Regions from separate parts of the Homo sapiens genome. Here region 2 is linked to region 1. The links come from fine-mapping of genetic effects on plasma protein levels. Region 1 holds a variant in brackets. A gene starts in the other region. All regions are shown on their reverse strands.

Region 1 (2,910 bases):
GAGGGTGTGTGTGTGTTTGTGTGTGTGTGTGTGTGTGTGTGTGTGTGTGTGTGTATGTATGCCCATGTATGTTGGGGGGAATAGCCTTGCATTCATTCATTCACAGGTATCTATTGAGTACTAACTATACCCCAGGCACTGTCCTAGTACTGATGATATAGCAATGAAAAAACAACTAATTTTGCAGGGAGGAGTGGGGCAGTCTGTGGAAAAAATATCTCAGCAACTGTGTGAGGCAGACTATGTTAGCTCCATTTACAAGTGAAGCCATTGGGGCTTGGAAATGGCAGTGACTCACCTAAGGCACACAGCTACCAAGGGTAGTGTAAGAAGTCGGTCATGATGACACAAAGCCTAGGCTGCTCTTACTGGCCCACTGCAATCTCTCACTCATAAAGAAATTAGAGGCAAAGACAGAAGGAGTGGATGACCCAAGATAAGAAAATCTCATAGTGGCTAAGCCAGGAAATACACTAGGTATCTTGCTTCCAAATCCAGTTTTTTAGAGTACTGTCTTGTTTGACATTCAACGCTAAGTCTATACACGGCGTCATTCACTAGGGGTGGGGGTGGGGAGATTTAGCATGGAGATGGATCCCCATCCTCAAAGCAGTAGCCCCTAGAGCAGTGCATCTGTGAGACTCCACAATAACGCCACTGTCCTGGGGCAGATAGGCAGCTTAATTGCCTCTAGGAATGCAACCCTCTGTCAAAAGCCCTACCTGGACGTTCCAGGAAGAGTGATAAGGATAGGAGGGGCTGCTGTGAATCTGGCATCACAGACAGTACCAAGAGATGGTGTGGGTTATTATGTGTTTTAATCAAAGGCTTCAAGGAAAAAAATTGAAACAAGTGGCTAATATAAACAATTCCAAAGTTGCAAAGGTACAACGTTATAATTTGTACCAGTCAGAATGGCTATTAATAAAAAGTCAAGAAAAAAAAGATGCTCATGAAATTTTGGAGAAAAGGAAACACTTATACACTGTTGGAGAGAGAGGAAATTATTTCAATCATTATGGAAAGCGGTACGGTGATGCTTCAAAGAGTTAACTGCAGAACTACCATTTGACCCAGCAATTCCATTACTGGGTATATACCCAGAGGAATATAAATCATTCTACCATAAAGACACATGGATGTCAATGATCACAGCAGCACTGTTCGCAATGGCAAAGACACGGAATCAACCTAAATGCCCATCAATGACAGACTGGATAAAGAAAATATGGCACATACACACCATGGAATACTATGCAACCATAAAAAGGAATGAGATCATGTCTTTTGTAGGAACATGGATGGAGCTGGAGGCTATTATTCTTAGCAAACTAACACAGGAACAGAAAACCAAATATCACATATTCTAACTTCTAAGTGGGAGCTAAATGATGGGAACTCAGGAACACAAAGAAAGGAACAACAGACACTGGGGGCTACCTGAGGGTGGAGGGTGGGAGGAGGAACAGGAGCAGAAAACATAACCGTTGGGTACTGGGCTTAATACC[T/C]GGGTGATGAAATAATCTGTACAACAAACCCCAGTGACACAAGTTTACCTGTGTAACAAACCTTTACATATACCCCTGAACCTAAAATAAAAGTTAAAAAAAAACCCACAAAAAAACAAAGTTATACTTTGTGATGAAATACTTCCTGTTGATTTTCTTACAAGGGAGTCCTTCCAAGAAATCACATGTTTTAAACTAATAAGATTAGAATACTTGAAAAATTTATTTAGTTTCACAAACATTAGTCTTTTTTGTTTTGTTTTGTTTTTGAGACAGAATCTCGCTTTGTCACCCAGGCTGGAGAGCAGTGGTGCAATCACGGCTTACTGTAATCACTGCCTCCCTGGCTCAAGCGATCCTCCCACCTTAGCCTCCCAAGTAGGTGGTACTATAGCTGTGTGCCACCATGCCTGGGTAATTTTTTGTAATTTTAGTAGAGGCAGGGTTTTGCCATGGTGCCCAGGTTGGTTTGAACTCCTGGGCTCAAGCAATCTGCCTGTCTTGGCCTCCCAAAATGCTGGGATTATAGACACGAGCCACCACACCCAGCACACAAACAATTAATCCTTTGAGAGACACAGAAGACAAACGGTATCAAACAAGCTAGACAAGACAGGCAAGGAATGGTATAAGGGAGGAAATAACTGATTTTAACCCTTTAAAGAAAAACAGTTAGCATGTCTAACTTAAAAACTCAATGTTAGAGCTGTATTTGTTGGTACAGTTGAGTATGACATGGCAACATTTAGACTAGCAGTTTTAATTTGATCTTGTCAGAATTGATCTATAGTGCAAACGTAGTTATGCACATAGCTGAAACTTTGCGGAGAGGTAAGCAGGTACACTGATCAGAATTGTTAGGTAAATAACCATAGATTCACTCAGGAAGAATTGTACAACTCTGGATGCATTTCAGTGAAGAGAAAAAGAAAGGGTTCTGATGAGCTTTCTTTTTGAAGGAATAGTCCTTTCACTTCTGATTTTTGGAGTATGAGAGTCTGAGGTTGAAGATACTCTTATATGTATGTAAAGTCTATAGTCATCTTTCAGCTGAGCTGGTCTTTGAATTCCAAGTTTAAAAAGCCAGCAATTTGCCGTTAGCTTTCAATCCAGATCTCTGAAAAATGCCAACAGAACATAAGACATACTATATCATAACACAACAAATAGGAAAAAACACTTAATAATTATGGCACGCATGAACTTAAGTTTCTAGTTTCCATTTTTTTTTCCTGCCCTTTGGCAATGATCCAATGGGATGAACCATTGATCATTCAATATTCTTTCTACACATATCCAAGATATTGATTACACACCAGGCTAAAAATTACAATGTTATTGATGGACTACTGAATTAAAATGTCAAGTTTGTGCCTAAGAATCTTGTCTCTCAAGAGGTGGT
Region 2 (2,844 bases), not on the chromosome of region 1:
AGTGCCAGGCCCTGTTCTGAGTGCTTTACTTTTCCTGTTATCGTGCCCAGTTTACAGAGAGGTGAGGGCACCTGGCCAGGGAAAGCTGGCTTTGGACCGAGGGACCTGGCTCCCGAGCCTCTGGGCATCCTCACTCACCTGTGCTGCTGAGCCCCAGAGAGGTGCTAATTAAGCAGGAGTTGAATTAGAATAAGAGGTGATGGTGCTGGAAGGGAGCTTCAAATGAGGAGTCAAGAGGCCTGCCCACTGCTCAGACTCACTGTGGGAACTTGAGGAGTCCCTGCACCTCTCTGGTTCTTAGTCTCCCCCAACAAGAAGCATAAAGGCGGTGGTTTCCATGTTTCCCAGCACCCCTCTCCCACCTAACCATCTGCAGCTGAGCTGGAACTCACACCCAGACCTCAGACTCCATCTACAGTGCTCCCTTGACGCAGGGTTTGAACTCTGGGGCTTGCAGGATGGGGTGGGGAGGACACTGGAAGTAGCCACTCAGCCCAGCCTGGGGAGCAATGCGTCCAGCGTGGGCCTCCAGCCAGATTTCTGCCAAAAACAAACACAGGCAGGCAAGCTGGGGAGGGCTCCCTGGGGACAAAGGAGGCTTGCACAGGATGGGCAGAGGGCAGGAAGGCGGCGGAGGGCGCGGGCCTCATGGCCCTACCTGCAGGCATCCATGAATGGCTCCATGTCATGCTCTGGCACGGATCACTGACCCCTTTCATTGCCTGCCCATCAGCCCGGATATGAGGTCCCGGAAGGCTGTGTTTACCCAGGGGTGGGGGAAACCTGCTACTTCCCTGAGCCACTGCTTCATGTCCTGGGCCACTGAAGGTCCCATCTACTGTCTGACCTGACTTTCTCACACTGTAATCTGAGTTTGGCCTTGGGGGAAACCGCTTCTGATCTCCTGGCTTTGGTGGGAAACCAAATTCTCACCGGGAGGCAACTCGAGGTGAATAAACATGTTTGTGCTGGCGTCCTGGACCTTGGCAATGTCTGTCCCTCCCTGGGGCTAAGTTTCTTCATTGTGCCCTCCTTAGGGGATTGGGGCAAGACTTGGAAGGATCTAGCAGCACAGCCGTAAGACAGAGCCCTCGCACAAGTGGGACCCAGAGAGCGGATGGTTCTCTCACGCTGAGCTCAGAAGGGATATAACTTTAGAACACTCCTTGCATCACGGTGCTAGACAGACCTCTCCCAAGAACACACGTGCGTGCACACACCACATACGCAAACGTGTACACCCAGGGTGAACAGCCGTACCTGTGCACACACATCCAGGCAGCATCATGGGCTTGCACCCTCCCCGACACTTAAGTACACACGTGGGCACAGCTCTATGAAATTTCAAACTCATAAGTAGACACACACAGGTAAAAATAGCCCCTCAAACCGACCTATGCCCACATCACCAAAGCATGTGAGCAAGTCACATGTGCACACTTGCACACTGGCCACATGACGTACTCCCCCCTCACGCATTTATGTAATAAGCATTTGTTGAGCAGCGCCATGTGTCAGGCACTGTCTGGGTGCCAGGGACACAACTTCCAATTAAAATCTGGGTCCTCATGGGCCTTTTGAGTTCACAGCTACGCACACACACTTAGGATTGCACACGCATGTACAGGCTCACAGACACTCACTGGGTAACACACCGCTTACCGTAGCTCAATGCTGCCTTGTTGAGTCGGACCACGGTGCCTGGCGTGGAGGCACCGACCACGGGCAGCAGCAGTGCCAGCAGCAGGCCCAGCCTACTTGCCCAAGCCATGGCTGCCCTGGCCGCTGCCCACAGGATCTGTGGGCTGGGGTAGAAATGAGCATCAGGGAGCTCAGCCAAAACAGCCCACCCCTGAGCCACCCGAACCCCACTCCAGCCTGGAGGGAACAAGCCCTGACTGGTGATCCCAGCCCTGCCCCAGGCCCACAGACATCAGTTTTTGCATCTCTGCATTGGGAACCATCACCTTGCCTTGCTTGCTTCATCAGGAATCATGGGGGAGTCCCTTCTGGAAATGACCCGCAATGCCCAGAGAAGAAATGGTCTTGCCTAGGGCCACACAGTGGACTGGGACCAGGTGCAGGACCCAAGCCATGGCATAGAAGGATGGTGAGACTCCCAAACGGGGAGACTGAGGGTAGTTTCCTGTCCCAAGAAGATGCCCAGGACTGTATCACCTGATGCCGGAGTCCAGCCCCGTGTGACAGCCAGCTTGGTGTCCAGCTGTCCACCAAATTCAGCCAGGGGAGGACCCAGGGTGGCTCCTGTCCTCATCCCCTCCTGGCCAGGTGGTAAATGGCCTAAGAGTAGGCCTCTCACATGGCCCCCATCCTCTCCTGACTCAGTCTGGCCAAATAGGCAGATCTGTGTCTGACTCAGGGAGAGGGAGCCAGGCAGGAGTGAGGGACTGCGGCTCAGGTGGGTCTGCTGAGACCCAGGATGGCGGCACTTGCCCAGGTCCTACAGCAAGGCCAGGGGTGGAAGGACCCTTCTGCAGAGGGTGGCTGGAGGTAGCATCCCCACTGAACAGATAGAGAAGCCAAGCCTCCTTGGAAGTGGTGTACCAGCCCAGCCCCATGCCTACCTCAGGTGGTTCCTGAGACAGGTGAACTCTCAGCCCCAGGGTAGCCCTCCTCTGCCCGAGGCAGGCAGATGCAGAGGCTACTTTATAAGGCTCCCAATGTGCAGAGTCCACTGGGAAGGGACCCAGGGAGCGGCGAGTTTGCTTGTGGTTGCAAGTGTTTTCCCTGCAAACATGGCCTTTGCCAAAGTGTCTCATCCCACATGTGCGCTGGGGCTGCCACGTAGCCAGTAGCCAGGCCCAGCTCCCAACCACTACAAGC

Which allele goes with the higher level. Alleles are on the strand shown, and positions count from the first base shown. The strength of an association depends on the size of the effect and on how common the allele is.
With allele C in place of T in region 1, the plasma level of the protein whose gene starts at base 2,642 in region 2 is lower (weak association).

Evidence for each region. PIP is the posterior inclusion probability: the model's chance that the variant is causal. Protein levels are from antibody-based Olink assays in UK Biobank. Linkage for the fine-mapping came from a reference panel and not from the study's own genotypes, which makes the PIPs less certain.
Region 2: it holds the start of BPIFB2, and the variant in region 1 is fine-mapped to the plasma level of the BPIFB2 protein (UK Biobank, PIP 0.94).

Annotation. Positions count from the first base shown.
Region 1 is chr4:110,001,360-110,004,269 of GRCh38, reverse strand. The region is part of intron 21 of EGF (epidermal growth factor); the gene reads right to left. Among named protein-coding and RNA genes, the nearest start is that of EGF, 90 kb to the right of the region's middle. The variant T/C (reference allele first, on the strand shown) is at 1,509.
Region 2 is chr20:33,007,502-33,010,345 of GRCh38, reverse strand. BPIFB2 (BPI fold containing family B member 2) reads right to left here and starts at 2,642. Exons shown (of 16, transcript NM_025227.3): 1 at 2,586-2,642; 2 at 1,663-1,805. The coding sequence starts at 1,771. RefSeq lists enhancers at 1,267-2,261, 2,262-2,844.